3 separate regions of the Homo sapiens genome follow, and regions 1 and 3 are each linked to region 2. Evidence: fine-mapped QTL for protein levels in blood plasma. A gene starts in region 2. Each other region holds a variant in brackets. All regions are shown on one strand. Distances are from middle to middle. Region 1 overlaps PADI4 (peptidyl arginine deiminase 4). Region 2 holds the start of PADI4 (peptidyl arginine deiminase 4). Region 3 overlaps PADI4 (peptidyl arginine deiminase 4).

What was found. PIP is the chance, under the fine-mapping model, that this variant and not a neighbour inherited with it causes the effect. Protein levels are from antibody-based Olink assays in UK Biobank. Linkage for the fine-mapping came from a reference panel and not from the study's own genotypes, which makes the PIPs less certain.
Region 1: its variant is fine-mapped to the plasma level of the PADI4 protein (UK Biobank, PIP above 0.99). The variant lies in the coding sequence of PADI4. If it changes the protein, the assay may bind it differently, which can mimic a change of level.
Region 3: its variant is fine-mapped to the plasma level of the PADI4 protein (UK Biobank, PIP above 0.99).

The regions. Positions count from the first base shown.
Region 1 is chr1:17,334,428-17,344,854 of GRCh38, forward strand. PADI4 (peptidyl arginine deiminase 4) reads left to right here. Exons shown (of 16, transcript NM_012387.3): 4 at 1,732-1,799; 5 at 3,611-3,728; 6 at 5,261-5,386; 7 at 7,516-7,694; 8 at 7,872-7,975. Among named protein-coding and RNA genes, the nearest start is that of PADI4, 31 kb to the left of the region's middle. The variant A/G (reference allele first, on the strand shown) is at 7,966.
Region 2 is chr1:17,301,730-17,312,156 of GRCh38, forward strand. PADI4 (peptidyl arginine deiminase 4) reads left to right here and starts at 6,468. Exons shown (of 16, transcript NM_012387.3): 1 at 6,468-6,585. The coding sequence starts at 6,494. RefSeq lists an enhancer at 2,790-3,650.
Region 3 is chr1:17,345,643-17,356,069 of GRCh38, forward strand. It overlaps PADI4 (peptidyl arginine deiminase 4), which reads left to right. Exons shown (of 16, transcript NM_012387.3): 9 at 386-497; 10 at 2,299-2,406; 11 at 8,891-9,045; 12 at 10,341-10,427. Among named protein-coding and RNA genes, the nearest start is that of PADI6, 21 kb to the right of the region's middle. The variant C/T (reference allele first, on the strand shown) is at 2,265.

The DNA.
Region 1 (10,427 bases), 33 kb after region 2:
TAGTAGCTGGGACTACAGGCGCTTGCCACCACGCCTGGCTAATTTTTGTATTTTTAGTAGAGATGGAGTTTCACCATGTTGGCCAGGCTGGTCTCGAACTTCTGACCTCAGGTGATCTGCCTGCCTCAGGCTCCCAAAGTGCTCGGATTACTGGCATGAACCACTGCGCCAGGCCCTCTATTCCTTTTTGATACCTCAAATATCTATAACAAAAAGTAGATAATGACACTGTCTTATACAAGAATATAGATAGTGTTCCTCAAATTCCATTATTTATATCTCATCTTCACCATTTCTGCCATATCAATGATCCACCTATACTCATATTTATGTAATGTTCTTCTTTAAATAAAATCCATTCTTAAACTTGACCTCATTTTGAACAATAATATCATGATTAGTATCATTATGTGTATTAAACATATAAGTAGCAGCCAGACATGGTGGCTCACACCTGCAATCCCAGCGCTTTGGAAGGCGGAGGCAGGAGGATCGCTTGAGCCCAGGAGTTTGAGACCAGCCTGGGCAACATAGTGAGATCCTGTCTCTACAAAAAATAAAAAAAAACAGCTGAGCATGGTGGCATGTGCCTGTAGTCCCAGCTACTCAAGAGGCTGATGTGGGAGGATTGCTCGAGCCCAGAAGGTCAAGACTACATGATTGTGCCACTGCACTCCAGCCTGGGTGACAGAGTGAGACCCAGTCTCAAAAACTAAAAAATATATATATACACACACATATATATATAATATGTAGCATATAGAATCTTCAGGTTTCATTTCATTAATGCATTTCATTCATTAATGCATATTTAAGTAATAATACTACAGCACTTACTCAATTGCCAGGCACTGTGCTAAGACTTTACATTTAATCCTTACAACAATCCAGTGAAATTGGTATTATTATTATCATCCCATTTTACAGGTGAGGAAACTGAGGCACAAGAGCTAAACAGACTTGTCCAAGGTCATGCAATTGGTTAGTGAAGGAGTCAGGAAGTCCAGGCCACGAAAGGACAATGCTTCCCCGGCCCTAACTAAGACGTGGCTATGAATATGTTTAGAAGGTCATCTGGGTCAGTCTCATGTGGGACAAGGGTCACCATATCATGCTGTGGGGCACACGGATCTATTTTATTGGAATGACCTTGCAGTCATATATTCGGATGAGGGAGGAAGGATTTACAAACAAATGTTTGCTTTCTCAGCCAAGCCATTTGGACAGAGTGGGGGCATGTTCAGGGTTGCAATTTGTCCCCAGATACAGTCACAACACATGTCATGAAGAGCCCGTGGGGCTGGTGTCACCGCTGGGTCCCCCACCCCAAGGTCACTGAGGGCTGGGGCCAGAGTCTTTCGAGAGGCTGGCAGGGTGTGCCTGCAGAGGCTTCACATCGAACCTCTCATTGTGGTGGTTGGGAATTCCTTCCAAAATCCCTGGGGGTGGCCAGACGTGCAGGGTCTGGTGGACATCACAGTTGTGGCCCCGCTGAAGGGGAACAGGTGTGGTCAGAGGCCCCAGCTCTGCTGTCCGAACTGTAGCCAGACTTCCTGGGGGCCGTGGAGGAGGGATGTCTTGAACCTGTGTCTCCTCTGAAGGACGGGAAGAGGGGCTCACACTATGGGTGCACACAGTCCCCTGGGGAAACGACCTGCCCATTCAGGGCCAGGCTGGGTGCCCCAACCCCGGACCCTCACCAACCTCTCCTCTTACTTGATGGGATTTCAGAAATCTCCTTGTGCGCAGACATCACCCGCACCGGCAAAGTGAAGCCAACCAGAGCTGTGAAAGATCAGGTACCACTCACCCAAACGCTCCTTTCCTACTTCTACTGGATTCTCCCCGGGCGCCCCCTTGTGGTGATGGGGCAAATGCTGGCCTGTCCCACGTATTCCGTGTTAACTGTTAAAAAAAGAAAGAAAATTAGCATCACCATTAATATTTTGGCTTATGTATTTCCCATCTATTTTACAAAATCAGAATTTCACCAATTGTGGGTTCAGATGTGTTATCCTACAAACTGGAAACCCTACTGAGTCACCCAGTTAATACACAGCAGAGAGGAAATTCGTGGGCAGGTCTCGACTCTGGCTCAAAAACTCCCTACTCCATGCTCTACAGCTGATATGGGAGAGATTTCTGCAGAGCTGTCTACATGGGGGAATAACAGAGAAAGGAAGAAATGGCAGGGGGAGAGGCGGGAAGGAGCCAGGTGGGGAGAGGGAGGGTGTGTTGTGGAAAGACAGGATGATGGGATGTGCAGAAAGGGCAGGTGAACGCTGTCTTAAACCAGAGTCTGCAGGTAAACCTGAAACCCCAGAGCTGCCTGCACCATTTTATGCTGGTGTGCACTGGGGGCTGTGCCCTGTAAAAAGATGAAGATCCTTTGTGGGGTCAGCAAAAGTGGGAAGACAAATTACAACTCTAGGAGTAGAATCTGTCCCTGTATCCCTCCCGAAATGCAGTCATTTCCCAGGGGCAAACGCTCTCCCGCGAAGGGAGGCGCCATCACTATTAGATCCCTACAGGGTGGGGCTGCTTAATGTGCTTTAATCTCTAGGCAGATATTAACTGGCTGCTAAGAATAGTACCACACTTTGCTGAATGAGTAATTAAGAGTTCACATAATAGTAACTATTTAGATTAGAATATTGACATACATATTTAGCTGCATTTGGTTTGTCAAGCTCAACATTTTATTTATTTATTTATGTATTTATGTATTTATTTATTTATTTATTGAGATGGAGTCATGCTCTGTCTCCCAGGCTGGAGTGCAGGGGCGGTTCACCGCAACCTCCGCCTCCCAGGTTCAAGTGATTCTCCTACCTCAGCCTCCTGAGTAGCTGCAATTACAGGTGCATGCCTCCACGCCCAGCTAATTTTTGTATTTTTAGTAGAGACAGCGTTTCGCCATGTTGGCCAGGCTGGTCTTGAACTCCTGACCTCAGGTGATCTGCCTGCCTCAGCCTCCCAAAGTGCTGGGATTACAGGTGTGAGCCACTGCGCCCAGCCAACATTTCTTAAAAGCTGTTAAAATCCATGTGACTGTCTTGGGCTCCTTTTTTTAAATGGATGAATTGTGTTTTGGGTGAATTTGGTTGTGACTTTTGGAGTAAAAGGCAAAAATCCACTCCTGAGATCAAATAATTAATTGATGTGGAAGCAAGATGTGTAAACTGCACTGGGTTAAAGAAGTGATGGGGGCCGGGCGTGGTGGCTCATGCCTGTAATCCCAGCACTTTGGGAGGCCGAGGAGGATGGATCATGAGGTCAAGAGATTGAGCCATCCTGGCCAACATGGTGAAATCCCATCTCTACTAAAAATACAAAAATTAGCCAGGTGTGGTGGCATGCGCCTATAGTACCAGCTACTCAGGAGGCTGAGGCAGGAGAATCACTTCAACCTGGGGGGTGGAGGTTGCAGTGAGCCAAGATCACGCCACTGCACTCCAGCCTGGCAGCAGAGGGAGACTCCGTCTCAAAAAAATAATAAATAAATAAATAAATTTTAAAAAAGAGGTGATGGGGAGTTGCTATGCCTCTTGCAAGAGTTGGAGGGCTCTATGCTAGTTTCTGAGCATGACTCTTCCCTGCTGGTGTCCAGAGGACCTGGACCTGGGGCCCTTGTGGACAGGGTGCCATCCTGCTGGTGAACTGTGACAGAGACAATCTCGAATCTTCTGCCATGGACTGCGAGGATGATGAAGTGCTTGACAGCGAAGGTAAAGAGCATTTGCTAGCTAACGGGAAGGGCTTTTTATAAAGCCCTTTTGCCCACATAGCCTGAACCTGGTGACGGCCCTCTGAAATAAGGGTTATTGAAAGCATCTTCTTGTTGGCAAATCTGTTTTATAGGTGAAGCAATGGGCAAAGGCCCTCGGGGGTCAAGTGACCTCCCCAAGCTCACGCAGCGGTCAGGGAAGAGCTGAGGCCAGTGCTGTCTCCTGATGCCTCCTACAGGCCCTGGTTTCCATGCCTCACCCTGCTGCCCAACCTAAACGCTCTTAGGTCAAACCTGGAGCCTGAAATCCTTCGAAATGAAAGCTTTTCATTCCCAAACTCATATCAGAGCAGGCCCTGAGACCTCTGCCATAGGCCGGGCACGACTCTGACCACTTTGGAATGATTAACTCATCTGATCTTCCAACACAAACCTTTATAGGTAGGAAAACCAAGGCACGGGGAACTTAAGCAATTTGCCCAAGGTCACAGCACTGACACGTAGCAGACTCGGGGTTTGAACCCCGGACGTCCCAACACCGGAGCAGGTTTAGAGGCATGAGGATGGTGGGGAATGCAGGATCTCTGCAGGCAAACCTCTGGGCTGCTAAGGGGGTGGCTCCGGGGTTGAAGTGAGGAAACATTATCCACCTGCGCTGGAGGAAGGTGCTAAGGGGCTCTGGCTGGCAGGCCTTCCTGGGGAGCTCTTAGAATAACATAGAAATGGATGTATTTTCAAGTTGCATGTAGTTGGCCTGGCCCGATGCCAGGGGACAGCCTCTGTACAGTGCCTGACATGCGGTAATAATCACAACAGCTGTCCTTTGTGGGCACTCCCGGGGTGCCAAGAGCTGGTATAAGCACTGTGTATCACCTGACTTTATCTTCACAACCATTCTACGGTGGGTACAACTCTTGCCCCTGTCTTAGTGATGAGGAAACAGAGGCAGAGAAAGCTGAAATCCGTTTCCTAAGCCCACCCAGATCCCAGATTCAAACCAAATTGACCGCAAAGCCTTTAAGCCCTTGGCTATCAGTCAGTCCCTTGGGAACCATCTCTTCACTCTCCCCACCCTCTACCCCTTCTTGGCTATTGTTCAAGTTGGTTCACAAACCCCACTTCTTGCTCAGGACCAGCACAGAAACCTTTCACTCGTTCATTGCACAAATCTCAGCCGAGCGCCTGCCGCCTGCTGGTCATTGTTCTAGGGAGTTCTCGGCTTTCTAGGTTCAAGATTCAGGGAACGTTGCAAGGAGCAAAATATTAATAAATGTGGTCCCCGCTTTGCTGAGGTTACATCCCCAGCTCATCCTAGTGGGAGGAGACCAAAACCTTAATGAGCTCTCATTCCAAAATGAAAACCATCATTTAAATACTCAAAATAGCATAAAGAAAAGAAAACCAGGCAACATGGTAAAGGGAGGTCTCAGGGGAGCGGTGGGGTGTGAGGCTCCACCAGGAGGTGAGGTGGCTATGGGAAACCAGCAGCGGTCTCAGGGCCCTGTGACTCAGGCAATGCCCTTCTCATCCCAGACCTGCAGGACATGTCGCTGATGACCCTGAGCACGAAGACCCCCAAGGACTTCTTCACAAACCATACACTGGTGCTCCACGTGGCCAGGTCTGAGATGGACAAAGTGAGGGTGTTTCAGGCCACACGTAAGTCATCCCCATCTTTGTTCCCCTCCTGCCCTGGCCAACGGGGCACAATCCTGTCACACAGCTGTGTGGCAGATAAATCCTGAGCACCTACTATGTGCCAAGTTCTAAGAACAGCAGACGCAGCAGTGGGCAAGACAGACGACATCTCGTCTACTACCTTCCAGTTGGAGGACACAGACAAAATGACTCGTTATTGCTCCCTGCTTTTCTTTCTCTCTCTCTCACACACGCGCGCGCACACACACACACACACACACACACACCTCCTGGTTATAGACTTTGAGTGCAAGCTGACAGCATGTGGCATGTAATCATTTGTTCTGCAACATCCTGCTAATCAGAGACATCAGGAACTTCTCAGTGACCCACGAGCACCTGCAACTAAGTAGGTGCCAGGTTGATCCCAGGCACGGGGCACAGAGCCATGACTGTGACCGAGTCCCTGCCCTCGTGTTGCTTTCATCTTAGTGGCTGGGAGAACTATAGGTAAAATAATTACATAAAACACCTAGTGTGTCCAACGCTGTGACATGCTATGTAGAAGAATGCGGCAGGGAAGGGGATGTGGAGTGAGGAGTGGAGTTCGGGTTGTGTGGAGAGAGGGTGGCCAGGGAAGGTGTCCCCCATGAGGTGCCATGTGAGCAGAGGGAGGTATAGGAACAGCCAGACAGACACCTAGGGGAAGGGCGTTCCAGGCAGAGGGAACGGCAAGTGCGTGGGCCCTGAGGTGAGATCATGCCTGTGGTTTGGAGGAATGCAGGGAGGCTAGTGCAGCTGGGGCGGAATGTGCAAGGGTTAAAGTGGGGGATGAGGGTGGAAGAGACAGGGCAGAGGGGAAGGGGGAGGTCAGGTAGGCGTATATTGACTTTGGCTTCTGGATGGAAGGAGATGGAGAGCGCCATGGGAGGGTTTTTTTTTTGCATGGGCCTGACAATCATTCTGATCCTGATCATTCTGCCTGGTCTATTCCAAGCTTTTTTTTTTTTTTTTTAATTTTTTTTTTTGAGAGAGTCTCACTCTGTTGCCCCGGCTGGAGTGCAGTGGTGCCATCTTGGCTCACTGCAGCCTCCACCTCCTGGGTTCCAGAGATTCTCCTGTCTCAGCCTCCCCAGTAGCTGAGGTTACAAGCATGTGCCACCACATCCAGCTAATTTTTGTATTTTTAGTAGAGATGGGATTTCACCAGGTTGGCCAGACAGGTCTCGAACTCCTGACCTCAAATGATCCACTTGCCTCAGCCTCCCCAAGCACTAGGATTACAGACACCATGCCCAGCCTCTGTTTCTTTTTTTTTTTTTTTTGAGATGGAGTCTCTCTCTGTCGCCAGGCTGGAGTGCAGTGGCGCAATCTCAACTCACTGCAACCTCCACCTCCTGGGTTCAAGCAATTCTCCTGCCTCAGCCTCCCGAGTAGCTGTGATTATAGGCATCCACCACAATGCCTGGCTAATTTTTTTGTGTTTTTAGTAGAGATGGGCTTTCACCATGTTGGCCAGGCTGGTCTGGATCTCCTGACCTTGTGATCCTCCTGCCTCGGCCTCCCAAAGTGCTGGGATTACAGGCGTAAGCCACCACACCCGGCCTGTTTCATTCTTAAAGTGATTAAACTGACACTGATTTGGTGACAGGTCAACTTATTGCCTCCACCCAGGCATCACCTCCTCCAGGAAGTTCTCAGGGATTCCCTCTATCACAGCTGTCTGCTATTTTCATGATCTCTGCTTCTCCCTACTCACCCGTAAGACTGTGCACTCTCTGGGGGTGAGGATAGGAGGACAGTGACTCTGTCTCCCTGGTCCCCTGCTGTGCCCCTGTCCCCCGCTGACATCTGGCTAGAGCAGATGCTCAGGAATGAGTGAAGGAATGGTGTATACTGGACTTCCTATAAAGTTTGGAATAGCTCAGGCACCCCTGCCACACCCTTCTGGGACTTCAGCCGGGGAGCAGCGTCCCAGCTAGAACTTCAGTCCTTTTCTCCTAAGGGGACTGGCCAGATTTGGCTGCAAGGGGTTCTCTGATGGTGCCATGTGGTGACCCTGGGAAAGGCTTCTGGGGAGCACTAAGGAGAGGAGGAAAAGTCTTCAGAAGTGGGGACGCAGACCTGAGTCTCCCCTGCCTCTCTCCTAGGGGGCAAACTGTCCTCCAAGTGCAGCGTAGTCTTGGGTCCCAAGTGGCCCTCTCACTACCTGATGGTCCCCGGTGGAAAGCACAACATGGACTTCTACGTGGAGGCCCTCGCTTTCCCGGACACCGACTTCCCGGGGCTCATTACCCTCACCATCTCCCTGCTGGACACGTCCAACCTGGTAGGCCGAGAAGGCAGCCCTGCATCGGGGGCCTGGGCTTCCAGGCAGTGGCCTGGCTAGGGAAAGGGGTACAGAGCCCAGCTGGGCAGGGGGACTCCAAACAGCTGCAGGAAGTGGTAGGTGCTGGGCCCTGGCAGCGGTGACAGCCCCTCCTTCCCCTTACCCCCTCCCCTGCAGGAGCTCCCCGAGGCTGTGGTGTTCCAAGACAGCGTGGTCTTCCGCGTGGCGCCCTGGATCATGACCCCCAACACCCAGCCCCCGCAGGAGGTGT[A/G]CGCGTGCAGGTGAGAGGTCCTGGGGTGCTGGGGTGGGTCCAGACAACAAAGAGCCTGAGTTCCATCCGCAGCACTCACTGTGTGATGGGAAAAACAGTCACCCCTCCCCTGCCCACTGAGAGCTTGCTGCTTGTTGGGGGCTCTAAAAAGGCAGGGAAGTTCCCTACTGTTGTTGTCATTGCCTCTGTCCTGCCCTGATGCAGCTGAGGCTACGTTAACTCCCAGGGGCCTGTAGAGTGTGTCCCATGGACCTTGTGCACCAGAAACTCCTGGGAACTCATTTAAAATGCACCTTTCTGGGCTGGGCACGGTGGCTCACGCCTGTAATCCTAGCACTTTGGGAGGCTGAGGCAGGTGGATCACTTAAGGTCAGAAGTTTGAGATCAGCCCAGCCAACATGGTGAAACCCTGTCTCTACTAAAAAATACAAAAATTGGCCGGGCGTGGTGGCGCATGCCTGTAATCCAGCTACTCAGGAGGCCGAGGCACGAGAATTGCTTGAACCCTGGAGGCGGAGGTTGCAGTGAGCTGAGATTGCGCCACTGCGCTCCAGCCTGGGCAACACAGTGAGACTCCATCTCAAAAATAAAATAACCAGCCTGGCCAACATGGTGAAACCCCGTCTCTACTAAAAATACAAAAAATTAGCCAGGTGTTGTGGCATGTGCCTGTAATCCCAGCTACTCGGGAGGCTGAGGCAGGAGAATCACTTGAACCCAGGAGGCCAAGGTTGCAGTGAGCCGAGATTGCACCATTGCACTCTAGCCTGGGCGACAGAGCAAGACTCCGTCTTGAGAAAATTAAAAATAATAAAAATTAAAAATTAAATTAAATTAAATTAAATTTAAATTAAATAAAATGCACCTTTCTGGCTGCCTGTGAGCTGCTGGGTCTTATCCCTGAGGACGGGGCCCATCTGCATTTTGGGGAGGCCCAGGCAATCTTCCTGCAGTCTGAGAGCCGCTGACAAGTGTGCTGGGGTCTCAGGAGACCCTCTCCTCCCCTCTTCTGATAGCTTCAGGGGCAGAAGAGTAAGAGGGTAATGTGGTCAGGACGCAGGCTGGAATCCAGTGAGGACTGTATTCCGGTCCCAGCACTGTTCCAGGTGGTGTGACCTTGAACAGTGAACTCATATTCTGTCTTCTCCCAAGTTGATATGGTTTGGCTCTGTGTCTCCACCCAAATCTTATCTTGAATTGTACTCCCACAATTCCCACGTGTTCTGGGAGGGACCTGGTGGGAGATAATTTGAATCATGGAGGTGGTTTGCCCCATACCATTCTCATGGTAGTGAATAAGTCTCATGAGATCTGATGGTTTTATCAGGGGTTTCCACTTTTGCATCTTGCTCATTTTCTCTTGCCGCCGCCATGTAAGAAGTGCCTTTTGCCTCCCACCATGGTGTCCCCAGCCATGTGGGAGTGTAAGTCCAATTAAACCTCTTTTCCTTCCTAGTCTCAGGTATGTTTTTATCAGCAGCGTGAAAATGGACTAATACAGTAAATTGATACCAGTAGAGGGGGGCGTTGCTGAAAAGATACCCAAAATGTGGAAGCAACTTTGGAACTGGGTAACAGACAGAGGTTGGAACGGTTTGGAGGGCTCAGAGGAAGACAGGAAAATGTGGGAAAGTTTGGAACTTTCTAGAGACTTGTTGAATGGCTTTGACAAAAATACTGATAATGATATGAACAATGAAATCCAGACTGAGATGGTCTCAGATGGAGATGAGGAACTTGTTGGGAACCGGAGCAAAGGTGACTCTTGTTATGTTTTAGCAAAGAGACTGGTGGCATTTTGTACCTGCCCTAGAGATTTGTGGAACTTTGAACTTGAGAGAGATGATTTAGGGTATCTGGCAGAAGAAATTTCTAAGCAGCAAGGCATTCAAGAGGTGACTTGGGTGCTGTTAAAGGCATCCAGTTTTAAAAGGGAAGCAGAGCATAAAAGTTCAGAAAAGTTGCAGCCTGACAATGCAATCGAAAAGAAAATCTCATTTTCTGAGGAGAAATTCAAGCCAGCTGCAGAAATTTGCATAAGTAACAAGGAGATTAATGTTAAGCCACAAGGCAATGAGGAAAATGTCTCCAGGGCATGTCAGAGGTCTTCATGGCAGCCCCTCCCGTCACAGGCCCAGAGGCCTAGGAGAAAATGGTTTCGTAGGCCAGGCCCAGGGTCCCCATGCTATGTGCAGCCTAGGGACTTGGTGCCCTGCATCCCAGCTGCTCCAGCCATGGCTAAAAGGGGCCAGTGTAGAGCTCAGGCTGTGGCTTCAGAGGGTGGAAGCCCCAAGCCTTGGCAGCTTCCACATGGTGTTGAGCCTGCAAGTGCACAGAAGTCAAGAATTGGGGTTTGGGAACCTCTGCCTTGATTTCCAAAGATGTGTGGAAACGCCTAGATGCCCAGGCAGAAGTTTGCTGCAGGGGTGGTGTTCTCATGGAAAACCTCTGCTACAGCAGTG
Region 2 (10,427 bases):
GTGTTGGGAGAGAAGCTGAGGCAGGGCTTGCATGTCTGCTAGACTTGCTGGCTGCTTGCTTCTAGCACTCCCATTATCTCAAGCAGCCATATGTTTTTCATTCACTTGATACACTGTTTCCTTTCAACCCCCACATCCTCACCACCTGTTTGTTTGCATCCTCACCACCTGTTAGTTTGTTTGAGCACCAATAAACAGTGTGGGCTCCCAGAGCTCAGGGCCTTCTCAGTCTTCACACTCGCAATGGCCCCCTGGTCCCACTTGCTCTCTCAAAAGGTCTTTTTCTCATTCCTTTGACTCTGCCAGACTTTGTCGCCCCCACGACCTGGTTTTGGGTCTGATCACCCCAACATATGGTTTGGTGCTGTCTTTGTGATAGCGAGTGAGTTCTTGTGAGATCTGGTCATTTAAAAGTGTGTGGCACTTCCCCAGGCTCGCTCTCTCTCTTGCTCCTGCTTTCGTCCTGTGAAGTGTCTGCATTCTGCTTCACCTTCCACCATGACTGAAAGCTCCCTGACGCTTCACTAGAAGCCAAGAGGATGCCAGCACCATGCTTCCTGTAAAGCCTGCATGAGCCAATGAAACCTCTTTCCTTTATAAATTACCCAGTCTCAGGTATTTCTTTATAGCAAGGCAGGAAGAGCCTAATATACTACCCAATTTTAAGATTTATCATATAGCTACAGTAATCAAAATTGTGTTGTATTATTGGAGGAACAGACACAGATCAATGGAACTGAATATAGAACCTGGAAATAGCCCCACACATGTATGCCCAACATGTACAATTTTTGACAAAGATGCAAAAGCAATTCAATTTCAATTTGTTGAAAGAGAGTCTTTTCAACAGACGATGCTAGAGGAAGGAATGTATCTTAAAATAAATAGTGTCATAAATTCAGTAAAATACAGTATTTCTTGTGCACCTACTCTGTGCTAGGCCCTGTCCTAAGCACTAGGGAGATAACAGTGAGCAAAGCAAAGTCCATGCTTTCATGTCACTCACATTCTCATGGTCTTGGTCCCCAGGAGAAATCCTGGGTGCCAGAGAAGAAATGTAAGCACCTGGTGTCAAGGGTTGGGTAGGAGCCAGTTCCAGAAAGGGAATGCAGAGACATTTGCCTTCATCTGACTGGTCCCCTTCCTTTTCTCAAAGGTGGCAGAGGGGAAGGTTGCAGGCTTTTGATGCAGATAGATTTGGGCTCCATCTCCTGTCTCTGCCCCTAATGTGCTACTCATCTGTCAATGACTGACATTCACTGGGTTAGTGTATTGTTCACATGAATGGGCTCCAGTGCAGGGCAGAGCCTGGCACATGTTAGAGTCATGATTATGCCCTTGTGTGCCCATGAATCCTTCCAAAACCTAGAAGGATTCTGCAAGGGAGAGAAAGGAGAGATGCTGGGGGCAGGGAAGAGCTGTGTGAACAGAGAGGAGAAAAGACTGCCCCTGCAATACACACAGCAGGCAGGGGGCTCCGGGATGAACACTTTGCAGGAGGAAGGATTTTCTTTTTTTTCTTTTTTTTTTTTTTTTTGAGACGGAGTCTTGCTCTGTCACCCAGGCTGGAGTGCAATGGCATGATCTCGGCTCACTGCAACTTCTGCCTCCTGGGCTCAAGTGATTCTTCTGCCTCAGCCTCCCGAGTAGCTGGGATTACAGGTGCCTGCCACCACGCCCAGCTAATGTTTATGTTTTTAATAGAGACAGGGTTTCACCATGTTGGTCAGGCTGATCTTGATCTCCTGACCTCAGATGATCCACAGGAGGAGGGATTTTCTAGTTTCAGCCAGCCTGGATGATCTAGACATGCTCCAGTGTTCTGCTAGAAGTCATGAATTCAGAGAGGCTGAGAGACCAGGGTTCTTTGTGCTGGAAGGGTCTTCAGAATTCATTGGCCAAGTGACCTGGCCTGGGGGCAGCTGCATAGCCCTAGAGTGGACGAGGATGCAGGGGCTTGGGAGTTAGACCACGCAAAATTAAACGTAAGTGTCACCACTTCCTTCTGCGTAACCTTGAGTGGTTACCTAACTCCTCTGAGACTCGGTTTCCTCACCTGGAAAACGGGGAGAGATGTTAAGGTTGCTGTGAGGATTAGAGATGATGCATGTTAGGACCTGGCATAGGTCAGGGCTACACCAGGGCATGGCATGTTGGATGAAGCCAAATTTGAAACCCCCCTAGAGGCCGTGTGACCTTGAGCCTGGTGCTTCACTCTTCTGTAGAAATGAGATTGTACCTGTTGCCCCACTTAATGGTGAGAATTAGAAATAATAGAGCCCAAGGACCTAGTGACAGGTAAACACATAGCAGGCGTTAATAGATGGTGGTCTCTATTATCACCCTGGGTGCTTCTACATTTATGTTAAACAAAGCCTAGGTTAGCTTCTAAGCGAGGGCCAGGCACTTAGGAGGCATTCGGTGAATATTTGTTGAATGAACAGCTCAGTGTTGGGAATGAACTGTACTTATGCATGAATAATGCTGAAGCAAGAGCTAGGCTATCTGCTGTAAGAACAGCACTGCACTATACCCAGACACAGAGCCACTGGGAGAGTCCTCTGACCCTAATTCCTTTCCCCCAAATGATGTCATTGCAATCAACTGGAGCAGGCTAGCCAGCCAGTCTCTGGGACAGGAGCTCAGGTGGCCTCAGCCCTCTGGGCCCCAAATGCCTAGAGGGTATTTGGCAACACCCAGAACACCCTTGCTTCCTCTGCGTGAGCTGGGCTGGTGATTCTGCCTTTCAGCAGGAAGAGAGGCCTCTTCCTCCAGGGTTTCTGGCCTGGATCCTGAGCCGCTCACCATGTATAAGAGAGTTCACTCCCCAACCCCAAAGGTCCCCTTTGGGCTCTGAAAGGGTTAATGCCATCAGCAAAAGAAACAGCCAGGCCGGGTTCTCAGGGATCTTCACAGGATCCTGTCTGGGTCAAGTACTGGGCTGGGTGCTGGGAACACAAACAGCCACGGCGTTAAGCCACCAGTGTTGAGTGACAAGTCTAGGCACTGGCCTTGCTCTCAGGCTAGCTGGGGGATGGGCATTTAAACACAAGGTGTGGCAAATCTCAGGAAAAGAATGAAGCGCTCTGCCAAAAAACTAAAGAGGGGCAAAGATGAATCTACAACATACCTGCAAATAACCACAGACACGGGCACAAGTGATGCATCGCTGCATGGTTTATGACACTGAAAACTTGCAGACAGCCCCCATGTCCAACAGTAGGGGAGCAGCCATGTCAGGATGCAGCTGGAGCTGCAGGCACAGGTGGGGCACGCGCCAGCCCCAAGTCTGTTGGCCTCTCATTCCACTGCCCTTGGCTCCTGCCCTCAGCCCTGCCCATCACAGAGCCCGTGGCCCTTGTTCCACTGTGAGTGACCAAGTGTGTTTCTACAAAGAGGCTTTGCTTCCAAAGTGCAGCCGTTTTCCCTCAGTGTGAGTGAGTGTGTGTGTGTGTGTGTGTGTGTTACAAACCTAGTTTTGCATTGCTCCCTGTGTAATTGCAAATAGCATGCATTCTCTTTTGCATCTCCTCTCCCTCATCACTCCCCTGGGTCTCTGGTGGAGGACCCCAGGGCTCATCCCTCGGCCTTCTCTCTTCCCTATCCTCACTCATTCCCTAGGGGAGCTGGAGATGTTGACATCTCACTGTTTTATCCTTTTCAGCCTGGTCCTGTCTCTTAAGCTCCGGAATCATGTGTTCAAACGTCCTACAGGGCATCATCACACCAAATGACACTTGGCAAAGCCAGGACCAAACTCCTGATCTCCACCATGCCCACCCCCCGCCCTTCCCTCAGCCTTCCCTGCCCAGCTGCGGGCAGCCCCATCCCTCCAGGGCCTCAGGCTCCAAACTGCGGTGTCCTCCTCCATCCCTCTGTCTTTCTTAACACCCCTCATCCAGTCCCTCTGCAACTCCTATTGGCTGTATTGCATCACAAAATGTCCAGAACCTGACCCATCCTCCCCTCCTCCACTGCCACCACGCTAGCCTGAGCCCCACCGTCTGTCACCAGCCTGTGTGCAGCGGCCACCTCACAGGTCTTCTGGCCTCCTCCCGGGTCCCCTACAGTCTGTTCTCACATCACAGCCAGAGTGATCACGTTCAAGCAAGTTGGTTCGCGGTCCTTCTCTGCTCAAAATGACTCCAGGCTCCCCACGTTACTTGGAGCAGAGGCCAAAGCTCTTAGGATGCCCGAAAGGCCCTATATGATCGCACCCCGCCCTGGGCTGCTCTCCCCCTCCCTCACTGCATTTCAGCCACACTGGCCTCTTTGCTCTTTCTTGAACCCGCCAGGCATGTCCCTGCCTCAGGGCCTTTGTACCGATTGCACTGGCTGTTCTCTTGACTTGGAACCTTCTCCCTGTGTTCCTGGTAGCCTTTACCCTGTCCTTTTTCCTTTTTCTACCCCACTAACATACGATAGAATCCACTTACTGCATTTATTGCTTACTGGCTGTCTCTCTCCCAACAAAAACAAACAAACAAAAAGGCTCTATGAAGGCAGGATTTTTGTCCACTTTGTTCACAGCGTATCCACGGTGCCTGGAACAGTGCCTGGCCATCAATAGGCACTCAGTCAGTATTTGTTGAATTAACAAAACTGCTTTGGGGCTCGTCCTCTTTGTGGCTCGTTCACAGCAAATTTAAACCCCAAACTGCTGAAGAAAATAAGAAAGAAAAGAAGGAACAGAAGAAAACAACCTCAAGAGACCTAAGACTTGGGGTAGAGGCCAGCCCTCCCTCTGATTTGCTGTGTGACCGTGGGCAGGTCCCACTCCCTTTCTGTGCTTCAGTCTCCCCTTCTGCAAAACGAGGACTGGATTGGGTGTTCTCTAAGGGCCCTCCCAACTCTAACAATGGACAGCTCCCTCCTGCCACTTCCCAGTAGAAGCTCAAACTAGTTCTAATCATGCGGTCAGCCAGAGAAATTGGGTTTATTAACACTGTGTGCAGGCAGTCATGTAGATGCGTCAGAACGTCGGACCTGGCCACATCATCATCTGCTGGTACAGAAGATAAATTTTGAGCCCAGAGAAGGTGGTCTGAATCCAGATCCCCACTGTAGGGCTTATGAGACCTTGGGGGTCTCACTCAATCTCTCTAAGTCTTTGTGGTCTCATCTACACATGGGCATCCTGATAGGACGCACTCCATAGGGATGTTGAGATGAGGCAGGATTTGAACTAAAGCCTGTTTGATCCCACAGCCTGACTCTGAATTAATGAGGCAAATTCTTTGCTTCAAAGCCAAAGCAAGCAAACAAAAAACAAACGCAAGATATCCAACCCACGAAACGCTCTATGTTCACGCCAGACTCCCATGCATGCACCCTTTGAGTGCTCCTTGTTGGGACCCATCCACCACCCCCCAGTTGCCTCATTAAAGGCAGAGCCTGGCACCAATGGCCCAGGTGCAACCACAGCTCTGAGGCCACATGGGCATCCCCCTGGCAGGCGTGGCCCACACCTGCACTGTCTGGTCTGACACCCAGAGGCCCTGGCAAGAGGCAGGTATCCTGGAGCATGCAGAGAACATCAACTTCCATGCCAGGAAGCTCATCTTCTCTTCCCAGCTCTGCCGCATTCTAGCTCTGGCACCTTGGGCAAGAGCTAGTCACTTTTACTCTCTGAGCCTCAATTTTCCTTCTGTAAAATGGGTTGTAATAATAAGCCCATATACACCTTGTATTGTAGCGAGATGTAGCTGTGATACAGTCTGGAAAGCACGTGTCATATAGACAGGCAGCTAATGAATCTCACACTCTGGAACTGGACACCTTTGGTTCCAATTCTGGCCCTACCACTCTCGAGCTGTGGAAGAACTGCACCTCTGTTTTCTCCTCTGTAAAATGGGTATAATAATGGCACCAACCTCAGAGGGCTGCTGTGAGGGTGAAATAAGGGGATAATGGTATGATCTAGTTCACGGGTTTGTCGTAATGAGCTATTCTATGTGAAGTGCAGGAAAACGTGCCTGGCATAGAGAATGTGAGCTGTCATGTGGGTGGCCCAGGTGGAGAGACTTGTCCCAAGCCTGGTTGGTCTTTGAACGTGTAGCCTGGCCTGTGACTGCTTACCTAAAATCTCCCCGCTTTTCCCACCTTCTCCTCTCTGATATGCCTGTTTGACATAGGTGAGATTGGATAGATCAAGGTGTTCAGGGCCTCTAGGCAGGGATGGGACTGTGGGCATGAGGACCAGGACCCAACCCCTCAGCCCCACTCTCCACCCCAGGCTTTCTGAGCCATCCATCCTTCCCAAGAAACTGACAGAGCCACCCTGCCACTGGTACCAGCATTGACACCCATCTAGAGGTCCGAGGGGCAGCCCCAGGGCAGAGGAGATTTTGAGAGCCCACACCCCTGACCTGAGTGGGGAGGGGTTGAGCCTCTGGGCCACAGACCGCAGGTGCTGACTCATGGCCTCTGCTGGGCGATATAAAGGAACCAGCCCAGGGGCTTCCTACAGCCAGAGGGACGAGCTAGCCCGACGATGGCCCAGGGGACATTGATCCGTGTGACCCCAGAGCAGCCCACCCATGCCGTGTGTGTGCTGGGCACCTTGACTCAGCTTGACATCTGCAGGTAAGAGGGGGGCCTTCTGGGGTTTTGGAGGCAGGTCAGGAGATGCTGGATGACCCAGTTCTACTGACACAGGAGCATGTGTTTGGCCCAGGCTCTAGGCTCCAGCCTCTGCAGCCACTGCCAGGGGAGTAGCTGGAGAGAGAAGACCCCAGCAGCCCTGGGAAGTGCCAGTCTCATGGCTGTGGGTTCTTTGCCATGTACAAGTGCAAATTCCCCAGGAACACACGACAGATAAATTATTATGGGGCAAACCAGGCCATCCATCTCCCTGTCTTCATCGAGGCAACAGAAGCTTACAGAGAGTCTGTGACTTGCTCAAGGTCACACAGCACGTGTGCCCTGGAAGTAAGGTTAGCCCCTGGGCCTCCTGGTTCACAGCACAGTTTGTTACCCCACATCTCTTAGCTAAGCCTCCCTCAGTGGGTGCATAATAGCGTGGGTGGGGATGGCGAAACGGGGCTCTGTGGCGGCAGAGACTGAGGTAGGAAGCCTGGACCTGCTGCTGGCTAGCAAGGAGGCCTTGGGCAACTGAGCCTCAGTTGCCTCATCTGTGAAATGGGGATAATACTCACATCATGGGCTGGTTATAGGAATTCAATGTGAAAAAATGTGCAGATGTTGGCTGAGTACTTAGCACAGTGGTGGGCCCATCCTTGGTAGTTTTTATTTACTCATTTAACAAATGCTGAGTGCCATGCTCTGTGGCAGGGTCTGGGTTAAACAAGAGAGTTGAGGAATGCTCTCGGGGAGTGTGCAGGGTCATTGTTGTTATTGTAGAACAGGAATTAAAAGAAATTTTAAAACGTGTAAGCAAAAACTCAGTTCTATGTTAAAAAAAAAAAAAACAATTTTCCCTGGAAAAAAAAAAAAAAAAGAGCTGGAGTCCCTTAAAAATTAACTGCCTGTTTTTTTGTGGCTAGTGAGCCTTATTGCTCCTCTTTTTCCAGGCATTGTAAAGACCCTGTTTCTCCAGCTGTGCAGCTGCAAGGTCACTAGACAGATAAACTCAAGCTGTAAAAATTTTTTTCCTTAAAAAGTAAAAAATAATATAATGCATGTCTCAATTAAATAACTGTCTTTGTTTCTTGCCTCTATAATATGCTTCCCCCTGCACAGATCTACCCCCGCCCCATGAAATGCTTAAAAGATAACTTAACTCTTTGTTCAGGGCTCAGTCTTTTGAAATGTTAGCCTGACTGAGCCAGTGAATCTAAATAATAAATCCTCCTCAACCCCTCGGTCTCTCTGATTCCTAAATTATCCTGCAACAATTGCTGTTGTCAGGAATAGGAGTGGTTGCCCCTGGCTTCCCCATCCCAGTCTGGGCATCGGTGGCCCTAGAATGGTGCCCACAGGAGTGCCGGGGACATTTCTTTGCTACTGCCTGAGCCCCAGCAGCCAGAGAACAGCAGGAAATGTCGGGATGGTCTCCCAGGGCCACATGGTGGAGGCAGGAGACCAAGAAGTTGGGGAGAAAAGGAAAAAGAAAATCACCTGACATCATCTGAGGCGCCCCCAACTCCTCTGAGAATGGGTGTGAAGGAAATGACAGGAGCTGAAGCTAGCCCAGGGCCTCTCCCAGCATGCCCAGGCTAGCCCTCTACCCAGCGTCCATGAGTAGTAATCAAGATCACAAGTGCTTCCTCTGGCCCTAGAGAGGTGGGTGGACAGCTGGTCAGTGTTGGGCAGAGAGGAAGGCACTGCCCATTTCTCCCAGAAAGGATGGGGACTCCGGAGTTCACAGGGGCCTCTAAATCCTTCTTTTCTCCTCCTTCAGCCACACGTTGAGCCTGTCACTCTATCCCCTGAACATCTCACGTAACAATGGCTAATATTTACATCACACTTCCTACATTCAACTCATTCAATGGCCTTGGGAGGCAGGTAATGTTGTTATTCCCATTTTACAAAAGAGGAAACAGAGGCTCCAAGAAGTTAAGTAACCCACCTCAAGCCACACAGCTAATAAGTAGGGGAGCCAGGACTCAACCCAGGCAGCCTGACTCTAGGACCCTCCATTCTCCCCATGGGTCTCCGTTCCAGACCTTCCTGTCACTTCTTATCTGTTCTTAACATAGCCCCAGACAGCGCCTCCCTCCCATCTCCTGAGCAGCCATCGGCCTCTTCCTGAACCACACAGGTGGGAGGGCCACTCCCTCCTCACCTCCGCCCCTCATATTCATGCCTCCATAACTTTGCTCAAGCCATTCTCTCTGTCCCCAAAGTCAGGAACCCGGGAGGCAGAGGTTGCAGTGAGCCAAGATTGGGCTAGTGCACTCCAGCCTGGGTGACAGAGTAAGACTCTGTCTCAAAAAAAAAGAGGCAAAAACACCTAACCGAGGGTCACATAAATTAAAGGTGGCAAGCTGGGCACGGTGGCTTATGCCTGTAATCCCAGCACTTTGAGAGGCCAAGATGGGCAAATCACTTGTGGTCAGAATTTCGAGACCAGCCTGGCCAACATGGGGAAACCCCGTCTCTACTAAAAATACAAAAAAATTAGACGGGGCGCAATGGCTCACATCTGTAATCCCAGCACTTTGGGAGGCCGAGGCAGGCGGATCACAAGGTCAGGAGATCGAGACCATCCTGGCTAACATGGTGAAACGCCGTCTCTACTAAAAATACAAAAATTAGCCGGGCGTGGTAGCACGCAGCTATAGTCCCAGCTACTTGGGAGGCTGAGGCAGGAGAATCGCTTGAACCCAGGAGGCGGACGCTGCAGTGAACCGAGATTGTGCCACTGAACTCCAGCCTGGGCAACACAGTGAGTCTCCGTCTCAAAAAAAAAAAAAAAAATTAGATGGGAGTAGTGGCACATGCCTGTAATCTCAACTACTCAGGAGGCTGAGGCACAAGAGTTGCTTGAACCTGGGAGGTGGAGGTTGCAGTGAGGCAAGATTGCACCACTGCACTCCAGCAAGGGCAACAGAGTGAGACTCTGTCTCAAAAAAAAAAAAGTTAAAGGTGGCAAAGCCAGGACTGTCTGACCCTAAACCCACCCTGCTTCGCAGCCCACCCTGCCTCCAAATGCTGGGGAGTGGACTCCCCTGGGCACTGCTCCCTGTGGGCAGAGCTCATTCAACTTCCAAAGGATTTGGTAAAGGCCTAGAAGGGGTGGGGGTCCAGGAGGTGCCAACTGCAAAGGGCAGTGTGCATTCAGAAGCTGCCATCTATGGTCTCTCTTCTTCCTCCCAAAGTCTCCTTCTTCTTTTTTTTTTTTTTAAAAACGGAGTCTCGCTCTGTCCAGCCCAGGCTGGAGTGCAGTGGCAAGATCTTGGCTCACCGCAAGCTCCACCTCCCGGGTTCACGCAATTCTCCTGCCTCAGCCTCCCCAGTAGCTGGGACTACAGGCGCCTGCCACCATGCCTGGCTAATTTTTTTGTATTTTCAGTAGAGACGGTGTTTCACCGTGTTAGCCAGGATGGTCTCGATCTCCTGACCTCGTGATCCACCCGCCTCGGCCTCCCAAAGTGCTGGGATTACAGGCTTGAGCCACCGCGCCCAGCCGGGTTTCCTTCTGAATAGACCAGTTGGCATGACAGTGGGGAGCCTGGACAAGTCTGTTTGTCTCTCTGAGCCTCGGTTTACCCATCTGTAAAATGGGAAAATTAACACCCCTTCCTGGGTTACGGCGAAGATTGAATTATATAATGCACACAAAGTGTCTGGCAGAGGGGTCCCCTTTCCAATGCAAATCAAAGAAAATGACTAAAGTGAGTGTCAATCATTTTCAGAGGTTTATTTCCAAGGTTAAGGACGTGCCCAGGAAAAGAATACAGAAACAGGAAAAATCTGTAGTCCGTGCTTTTTCCTAAATGGGTCTGGGACTTCAATATTTA
Region 3 (10,427 bases), 44 kb after region 2:
GTTTTTCTCCTTTTTCTTCTTCCTCATTTTCTCTTGCCACCGCCATGTAAGAAGTGCCTTTTGCCTCCCACCATGGCCTCCCCAGCCATGTGGAACTGTAAGTCCAATTAAACCTCTTTTTCTTCCCAGTCTCAAGTATGTCTTTATCAGCAGCGTGAAAACGGACTAATACACGGGTGGAAGGGGTACCCACTAGTTCCTGCCTCATAACTTGTTAGATGGATTCCATGAGCTAATGCCTGCTAAGAGCAGATGGACCGGACGTGCCAGGAGCCTCTGTTCAGGCCACAGGTGACCCCTGAGCCACCTGTGTGTCCCTCCCAATCCTTCCAGGCTGAGCTTCAAATTCCAGAGCACTAAGGAGCTGCTTTTCTGCTCTCTCTAGTATTTTTGAAAATGAGGACTTCCTGAAGTCAGTGACTACTCTGGCCATGAAAGCCAAGTGCAAGCTGACCATCTGCCCTGAGGAGGAGAACATGGATGACCAGTGGATGCAGGTATGTGCCCTGCGGGGCAGGCAGGGTGACTGTCCCTGAGGGCCAAGAGACACTTGGGGGACCCGGGCTCCTGGGGTTCAGCCTGGTGCCTCACCGGCCACTCTTCCTTAGATGGACAGGGAGATAGGAACCTGAGAGATCCTTGGGCCGGGAGGCTCAAGCAAGTGATTCATCTGACGTTTGCTGTGGGCCACTGCAGGCCCACTGCAGTCACCAAGATGAAGCCACCTTCCTGCTTGAAAACACTCAGGTGGCCTCAGGAAATGATGTGAAGCTCAGGAGATTGGTGCTCAACCAGCCCCTCAAGTGGTCCTCCCTCCAGGCTGTCCATCTTGGGCCCAGCCACCAAAGCAGGTCACACCCCAGCTCCAGCACTTTCCATGGCTCCCATCTCCTCCTGCTTAGTCTGTTTCCAGGCCCTCTCAGCCTGCCTGGTTCCCTTCCCTGGGGCCAGCCTGCCACTGTGCCTGGAAACACATGATTACCAGTCTCTGTTTCCGTGCCACTCCCCCATCATGCCAGGAGTGCCCCAAGGACTGAGACTGGGCCTCATCCAGCCTAGCACCCTGACCCTCCCCACCACTGCCTTGCTTTGCCTCGGGACCCTGTCCTTCCATGCCGCACCCCTGCGGTGCTGTCTCTTGGACCCATCTCCCCATTCCCATCCCCCATCTCCAATCCATACCGGTGAATCCCAGCACAAATGCTCCTCGTCCATAAATTTCCCCCATCACCCCCAGCAGGAATTCATCCCTCTTTCTTTTCACCCCCACACAACATCCTTTCTTCCTTTCTTGCCATTCCATCTTTTCTTTTCTTTTTTTTTTCACTCTTGTTGCCCAGGCTGGAGTGCAATGGCTCGATCTCGGCTCATCACAACCTCTGCCTCCCGGGTTCAAATGATTCTCCTGCCTCAGCCTCCTGAGTAGCTGTAATTACAGGCATGTGCCACCACGCCTGGCTAATTTTGTATTTTTAGTAGAGATGGGGTTTCTCCGTGTTGGTCAGGCTGGTCTCGAACTCCTGACCTCAGGTGATCCACCCACCTCAGCCTCCCAAAGTGCTGGGCTTACAGGCATGAGTTACTGCACCTGGCCGCCATTCCATTTTTTTGATACCAAGTTGACCTGTGTGAAATTGCTGATATGTGCCATTTTTGATTTGCAAGAGTGGAACTTTCATCTGGTTCATCCTAATAGTAACTTATAGTAGTGATTATGTCCAACATCACACCTGCCTGCTAGAATACAAGCCTGCGGAGGCGGAATTTTCAGCAGATTCATTTCTGAAACCTCCCCGTGCTCCTCCTGCTGCTCCAGTGGCCCAGGCTGGGTCTTATCTGCCCTCCTTTGGGGAGGAGGCCGCGAGCTCTGGCGCCAACAGGTCTTCTCTGGCCCATCCTAGCTGCATCAGGAGCCCCTCCTCTGTGTCCCCACAGACCCCTCAACCCCTCACCCCCCATCACCTCCTAACCCTGGTGCCCACTGCCTGGCTCCCTTGTTTTCTCACCTTGAGGAGGGGTCTCAGTTTTGCTCACCAGGGGTCCCCAGCACTGGCCCAGGCACCACCAGGAGTAGGAGGGAAGGGCACTCCTGCAGGCTCATGGCCTCTCGTGCACTGGGCAAACAGGGGGCAATAAGCTCCGCTTCTGAGCCCCTTCTCTGAGATCAAACATCCCATAGGAATGTGCCCTTGACTGCAAGGGTGAGAGTGAGTGGATGGTTTCATGCCCCCATCCTGGCGTCGGGCACCAAGACCCAGGCAGCA[C/T]GCGCAACAGCCTCCTCTCCACTCACTCCCACAGGATGAAATGGAGATCGGCTACATCCAAGCCCCACACAAAACGCTGCCCGTGGTCTTCGACTCTCCAAGGAACAGAGGCCTGAAGGAGTTTCCCATCAAACGCGTGATGGTACCTGCATGGGGTGGGGAGGGGGCACAGCTGCCGAAACCCTCTTGTCTTGAGACTCCCTCCTTTTAGCCTGCCTTCCCCGCCCGCGCCTGTAGCTGAGTAGCCCAGTGCAAGGAGGTGGAATTCCTACCAAAGTGGGAGCATGTAGGTGGGGCTTGTTATTTTTTTATTACCAAGATAAGATCTGGCTCTTCATTTCCCAAAACCCTTGTCACCCGTGAGCTCAGCTTGATCTCCAGGTAACCCTGCCGAGGAGGTGGCTCAGGCTTGGACCTCCCTGTGCTCTTGAAGAAGCTCTTGCTGCAAGGTGGAGGTGGGGCCGGGGCTGGAATCTTTCCCAATGCCCAGCTGGAGGCTCTGTCTTATGGGTGGTGTTTGGTCTTCAGGGGCTCCATCTGGGATATGGGGGATTTTGGGATCAGTGGATCAGTGGTCATTTCCTGGGTGTGACTTTATCAGCCACAGGCTGTCCATGTGGAGGTGGGAAGTGACGTATTGCTGACTCATGCTTGACTAGCCTGGCAGGTTGATGCAAACTCAGCACAGAACAATAATAATAATAGTTGCATTTATTGAGAATGAGTTGTGTGTTAGCCAGTGCTGCATTCTTTACCTGCACTGACTCATTTAATTTGATAAACTGTTATGGAGATTCTATCAATAGGCCCATTTTATAGAAGAAGAAACTGAGGCTCAGAGTGGAGAAGTTGGAATTCAAACCCGGCCAGTCCGGCTTGGTGAGCATGCTTTTCCCCGCCCTGCCTCCCTCTCCCTGCTTTCCCAGGAAGACCCCAGGCCTGCGCTCTGAGTCCTGGCAGCCCCTTGGCTCAAGGTGCCCAGGGAAAACGACGGAAGGAGTGTGGGGTCCAAGGTTTGCTAGGACAAATGGCTTTCCGACAAGCATCTGTACTGTGCCCCAAGGGAGGGGAGAGTGGCCCTGCCCACACAGAAGGCTTCAGAATGAAACTTCAGTTAAACTCAACAACTTGTCCCGAGTCTCGCTTCCTCCTGGCCAAGCTGTGCGCTGAGCAGTGGAGATGCAGAGATGCTGTTGGATTCACAGTGTGTACTCAGCCATGGGGTCGAGTTCATCCTGTTTCAGCAGCGTTGGGGCGAACCAGCCAGCTGCTACCGTGACTTTGCCCTCTTTCTGCTGCTTTCAGTCCTGCCTGGTTCAGTGGCTGTGTCTACTTTGATGCTCCAAGTATAACAAAGGCCAGATTTTCTGATGCCACAAGTCCTGCTGGACAGACAGACGGACACCTCGGCACCATTGTTGTCCCCTTTCCCACAGACAACTTTGGATGAAGGCAGGCAGCACTGGTCCCTCAGCTAAGCACATCTGTGTATTCCAACTCAAATCACTCAGAATGAGGCCAGGTGTGGTGGCTGACACCTGTAATCCCAGCAGTTTGGGAGGCCAAGGAGGATGGATCACCTGAGGTCAGAAGTTCGAGACCAGCCTGGCCAGCATGGCGAAATCCCGTCTCTACTAAAAATACAAAAATTAGCTGGGCATGGTGGTGTGTGCCTGTAATCCTATCTTCTCAAGAGTTTGAGGCAGGAGAATCCCTTGAACCCAGGAGGCAGAGGTTGCAGTGAGCCGAGATTGCACCACTGCACTCCAGCCTGGGTGACAGAGCAAGACTGTATCAAAAAAAAAAAAAAAGAAAGAAAAAGAAAAAACAACAACAAAAAACACCCAAATCACTCAGAATGAAGAGAATTGGAGAAAAAGTCACACTCAGCACCAGGCTTTGGCCCCACCTGCCTCTCCAGCACCATTGTAGGCCACTCTCGCTGTCCCTTACCCAGCCCCACCTCCACTGGCCTCCTTCCTGTTCTTCAAACTTGCCTAACGTTTCCCCACCTCACGGTCTTTGCATATGCCGTTCCCTCTGCTTGCAGTGCTGTTCCCTGTTCACGGGGCTGGCTGCTTCTCAGCCTTCAGGTTTCAGCTTCTATTTCCTACTCAGTGAGGCCTTCCCTGATGCTAAAAGAGGGATCCCTACTCCCACCCCAACTCCTAGCCTTCTCCACTACAGCCCCCTGTTGACTTCTTCAGTGTATTTTGTTAAAATCATGGACTCGTTCATCTACTTTTCGTTGCCTGCGCTGCTGGGCCTGAGGCTGTTATGCCTTACGCTGTCCATCGGGCAGCTGGCACAAAGCTTCACACACAGTGGTTGTTCTTCCTGTAAGCATCGTCAGTAAATTTTCTATCACCACCATCAATGGGAAACCAGCAGCACTTCCTGCAGATAGAAGGCAACTGTGAAGTTAAACAGAATGAAACAAGATCCTGCTACCAAAGCCAGCTCGTTACAAGTGACTGCAGCATCTCTGAGCTCGAGGTCAGCTCTCTGCTGGTTAAAATGAGGGATTAGCAGGTGTCAAGGATGTGTTTGCATCACTGAAACTTGAATTTTTGAGGAACCAGAAAAGACTGGAGGAAAATGAGAAGGGCAACAGCTTTCCAACGTTGTGCCTCAGGCCGCATCACCTGGCATCCATGAGCGTCCCCCACACAGCCCACTCTTGGGGGGCCACTTCTGCAGACTATGGATATGCCTTCATTTGCCTGCAGAAATCCAAGGCTGAAGGCTGTATAACTGACCCCCTCTCACAACAACAGCCAGGGCAGTGATGTGGCTGAATTTACATTCATTCATCAAACACTGTTTGAACACATACTCAGCGGGGCCTTGTTCTAGGCACTTGAGATATGACAGGGAGCAACGCCAAGGTCCCTGACCTCACGGAGGGGACGTTCTGGCCCAGAGAGACAGACAGCAGACAATGAATAGAACAAAGCAGTTATATGGTTCCTTAGAAGGGGATGTCAAGAGCTACAGGTGCCAGGTGTGGTGGCTCATACCTGTAATCCTAGCACTTTGGAAGGCCAAGGTGGGAGAATTGTTTGAACCCAGGAGTTTGAGACCAGACTGGGCAACATAATGAGACCTTGTCCCTACAAAAAAAAAAAAAAAATTGTTTCAATTAACTAGGCATGGTAACACATGCCTGTAGTCCCAACTACTAGAGAGGCTGAGGTGGGAGGATCGCTTGAGCCCAGGAGGTCAAGGCTGCAGCGAGTCATGATTGCACTTCTGCACTCCAGTCTGGGTGACAGATGAGACCTTGTCCCAGAGGAAAAAAAAAAAAAAAAAAAGAGCTACAGGGAAAGACAGAGTAGAGCGGAATGGAGGGGCTCATAGGTGCCAGCGTGGTAGGGAAGGTGGATTAGGTTACATTCTTAAAGCCGAGTCTGGTGGCTCATTCCAGTAATCCCAGCACTTCGGGAGGCCAAGGCTGGTGGATTACTTGAGCCCAGGAGTTCGAGACCAGCCTAGGCACCATAGTCAAACCCTGTCTCTACAAAAAAAAAAAAAATTAAAAATAAAAATAAAAATAAGCCAGGCATGGTGGTGCATGCCTATAGTTCCAGCTACTTAGGAGGCTGAGGTGGCAGGACCCTTGAACCCTGAAGGGTGAGGCTGCAGTGAGCCATGATCACACCACTGCATTCTGGCATGGGCAATAGGAGTAAGACCTGGTCTCAAAAAAAAAAAAAAAAAAAAAAAGATTGCGTTCTTAAATAGGATGGTCAGGGTGGGCTTCACGGAGAAGCTGACCTTGCAGCAGATGCTTGAGGGAGGTGAGCGAGTTGGCCATGTGAGTGGGTGTCTGGGTGAAGAGTGTTGTAGGCAGTGAAACAGCCAGTGCAAAGGCCCTGGGGCAGGAGCATGCCTTGAGTGTTCCAGAACAGCAAGAGGGCCTGGAGGGGTAGAGCAGAGCAACCAGGAGGAGAGGCAGTCAGAGAGGAGATAGGAGGTGGTAGAAAAGGCAGTCAGGGAGCTGATGGGAGGCAGTAGGAGAGGCGGTCAGGGAGGTGATGGGAGGTGGGAGGAGAGGCGGCCAGGGAGGTGATGGGAGGAGAGGCAGTCAGGGAGGTGATGGGAGGAGAGGCGGCCAGGGAGGTGATGGGAGGAGAGGCAGTCAGGGAGGTGATGGGAGGTGGGAAGAGAGGCAGTCAGGGAGGTGATGGGAGGTGGTAGGAGAGACTGTGGTCAGAGAGGTGATGGGAGGCAGTAGGAGAGGCAATCAGGGAGGTGATGAGAGGTGGTAGGAGAGGCGGTCAGGGAGGAGATGGGAGGTGGTAAGAGGGGTGGTCAGGGAAGAGATGGGAGGTGGTAGCAGAGGTGGTCAAGGAGGTGATGGGAGGAGATGGGGGGCAGTAGAAGAGGCTGTGGTCAGAGGTGATGGGGAAGGGACGGGATGACCGGATGGGGTTGGGCTTGTTGGCTACTGTTAAGGCTGCTTGTTTAGAAACTGAGAATCATCACAGGGTCTTAAACAGAGGAGGATTATGATCTGGTTTGTTAGAAAAGGGAACAAGCCCTGCTATGTGTTGTTGAGTAAAGAGAACAGAGGCAAGGGGCAAGGGAGTGGGCAGGTGAGGGATGCTGGGAGTGCAGGCAGGGTGTGGCCAGAGGAGGTGAGAAGCCATGAGATTCCGGCTATGTCTGGAAGGCAGAGCCAGCAGGGCATTCTGACCCCCGCTATGAGAGAGGCAAGCCAAAGCTGACAGCAAGGCTGTGACCTCTGTGGGTGGCAGGCACCATCCCCTGGGAGGGGAGGACTGTGGGAGGAGGAACAGATTGATGGAGAATGAGGGGGTGGGAAGAGGGGACCCAAAGTTCTGTTTAGGGCAAGTGGGAGACAATTGGTCAACATCCAAATGGGAAGTCAAGTGAGCGTGGATACACATGTGATGTTTGGGAGGGAAGGGATGCCCAGAGATGCGAACATGAGGGTTGTCGGCTCGGGAACGGAATTCCATGAGACTTGGCAGGACGACTGAAGGGGCAAGTGAGGTTGGAGGTGAACCAGGATCCCCCGGTGTCCTGAAAGCCAAGTGCAGAAAGTGTGCGGAGAACACAGGTGTGACCGCCTGATTCAGGGGCTTCTGAGGGGAAGGCGAGGCCCGCGCATTGCACTTGGGATATGGCCATGTGTTCATGGAGACCTGGACAAGGAAAGCTTTGATGGGCGGGAGAAGCGGGTTGGTCTGGGTTTTAGAGAGAAGTGGAGAGAGGAACTGGAAGTGTGATTGTTAAATCTGTGGAATCAGGCCAGGCGCAGTAGCTCACACCTATAATCCCAACACTCTAGGAGCCGAGGCAGGAAGATTGAGCCCAGGAGTTTGAGACCAGCCTGGGCAACATAGTGAGACCCCATCTCTACAGGAAAGAACAACTTTAAAAATTAGCCAGGTTGTGATAGCATGCACCTGTGGTCCCAGCTACTCGGGCGGCTGAGACGGGACCGTGATCCTTTGAGCCCAGGAGGTCAAAACTGCAGTGAAGAAGTAAATTTGAAGATCACAGACCTCCTTAAGACCCACTCATCTTCCCAGAAACTCACACCTGGGCACATAATTTGGCGTCTACTCTCAGGGAGTTCATGGCCCCCATGAAGCCTCAGGGAATGGACCATCTATGTGTAGAAGGCTAGATGTACCCTCTCCTGGGAGGCAGGGGAGATGGGCGGTGGACTGAATAATGGCCCCTCTACATCCTAGTCCCCCCGAACCTGATGTTTCCTTATATGGTAAAAGGGACTTTGCTGAATGTAATTATATTAGGGATCTTGTGATGGGGTGATTATCCTGGTTTATCCTGGAATGCGGGAGGGCCTGTGATGATGGAAGCAGAGACTGGAGATCTTTGAAGGTGGAAGAAGGGGCTGCCAGCCAAGGCGGCTATTAGAAGCTGAAAAAGACACGGAAATATAATAGATTCTTTCCTCAGGGCCTCCAGGAGGAACCAGCTCTGCCATCCCTGGACTTAAGCCCAGTGGAACTGATTTCACACTTCTGGCCTCCAGAATTTTAAGAGAATAAATGTGGCTGGGCGTGGGGGCTCATGCCTGTAATCCCAGCACTTTGGGAGGTCGAGGCAGATGGATCACTTGAGGTCAGGAATCCGAGACTAGACTGGCCAACATGGTGAAACCCCATCTCTACTAAAAAAAAAAAAAAATACAAAAATTAGCTGGGCGTGGTGGGGCGTGCCTGTAGTCCCAGCTACTCAGGAGGCTGAGGAGTATTCCTTGAACCAGGGGCGGAGGTTGCAGTGGCTGAGATCATGCCACGGCCCTCCAACCTGGGCAACAGAGTGGGACTCTGTCTTAAGGGGAAAAAAAATGATGTTTTACAGATTTGTTTTATGCCCAAGTTAAGGTTTACCAAGCAGCTGGCACGCTTTAGGGACCCAACAAATGCTAGTCCCTTTTCTTGTCCATTGAATGAACTCAACATTCCTTTAACCTTCCACATGTGATAACAGCACCTGCTATGTGCCAGCTGTAGACGGTACTGAGTTACTTCCTGTGCCCAAGTTCATCTCTAAACTTGGACCCCCCGACCCTTCACCAGGGACCTCATTCCTCTAACTCTTGGCACTCCCTTCTCCTATCTCAGGGTCCAGATTTTGGCTATGTAACTCGAGGGCCCCAAACAGGGGGTATCAGTGGACTGGACTCCTTTGGGAACCTGGAAGTGAGCCCCCCAGTCACAGTCAGGGGCAAGGAATACCCGCTGGGCAGGATTCTCTTCGGGGACAGCTGTTATCCCAGGTAAGGAGGGGAGTAACAGGAAGGGGTGGCCAGGACCCAGGTATGCCGTAGAAAAGCAGAGGCCAGAGTGGAAGCCTTGCCTTCCTGCTTCCGATTCTAGACAGCCCAACAGACTTGAGGGAGTGTGAGAGGAATCCAAGCGCAGGGTGAGGAATGCGGGCTTTGGAGCCCATAGACCCAAGTTCAATTCCAGCCCTGCCACTTACCCTCTTTCAGTCAGTGAATATTTACTGAGCATCCAAAATGTTCTGGGAGCTGGGAATGCAGCCGTGGACAAGAAAGACAAGTCCTTACCACTACTCTAGTAGGGAAACAGATGATAGAAAAGTAGACAAGATAACTTCAAATGACAAAAACAAAAGAGAGGGGCACGGGAGGAATAGGAACTGTTAGGGTGACCAGGGAGGTCCTCTCTGGGGAAGGGGCTTTTGAACTGAGGCCTAATGACAGAAGGGACAGGGCCACCTGGAGATCTGGGACAGAGAGTTCCTGGCAAATGAAAGTGCATGTGCAAAGGCCCTGAGGCAGGAATGAGCTCCTGCGTGCAAGGCCAGGATGGCTAGAACCTATTGAACAAGAAGAGGCTGGGCACAGTGGCTCACACCTGTAATCCCAGCACTTTGGGAGGCCAAGGCAGGTGGATTACCTGAGGTCAGGAGTTCGAGACCAGCCTGACTAACATGGCGAAACCCCGTCTCTACTAATGCAAAAATTAGCTGGGCCTGGTGATGCATGCCTGTAATCCCAGCTACTCGGGAGGCCGAGGCAAGAGAATCGCTTGATCCCGGGAGGCGGAGGTTGTAGTGAGCCGAGATTGTGCCAGCCTGGGCAACAGAGCAAGACTCTGTCTCAAAAAAAAAAAAAAAAGTGAGGAAGAACAAGGCACTGCAACACTAATTTTTTTTTTTAGGAGAAAACTGAGGCTCAAACAGGTGAAGGAATGTCCCCAAGGCCACATGGCTAACAAGAGATCACCGACTTAGGTCAGACTGGCTCTAAGCCCCATGTGTACCCAGAATACCAGCATCTCATCTAACTCAAGAGGCAGTGCTTTCTGAGGCTAAGCTCTGTTCTACTTACCTTAGTGACTCTGTGCCTCAGTTTCCCCCAATAAAACTAGAATGACAATTCCTTGATTTCTCAAATGTTAGGGGATAAAATAAAGGCATTCTAGACTCCTGCATCCCTTTCTCAGCTGAAGGAGAACCCTGACCTTTTTGCCAAGCCCCTTGTCCTTCAGGGACTTCCCTGTAGCCCTTGCTGCCGATAACACCCCTTTAACCCTGCCATGACAGCAATGACAGCCGGCAGATGCACCAGGCCCTGCAGGACTTCCTCAGTGCCCAGCAGGTGCAGGCCCCTGTGAAGCTCTATTCTGACTG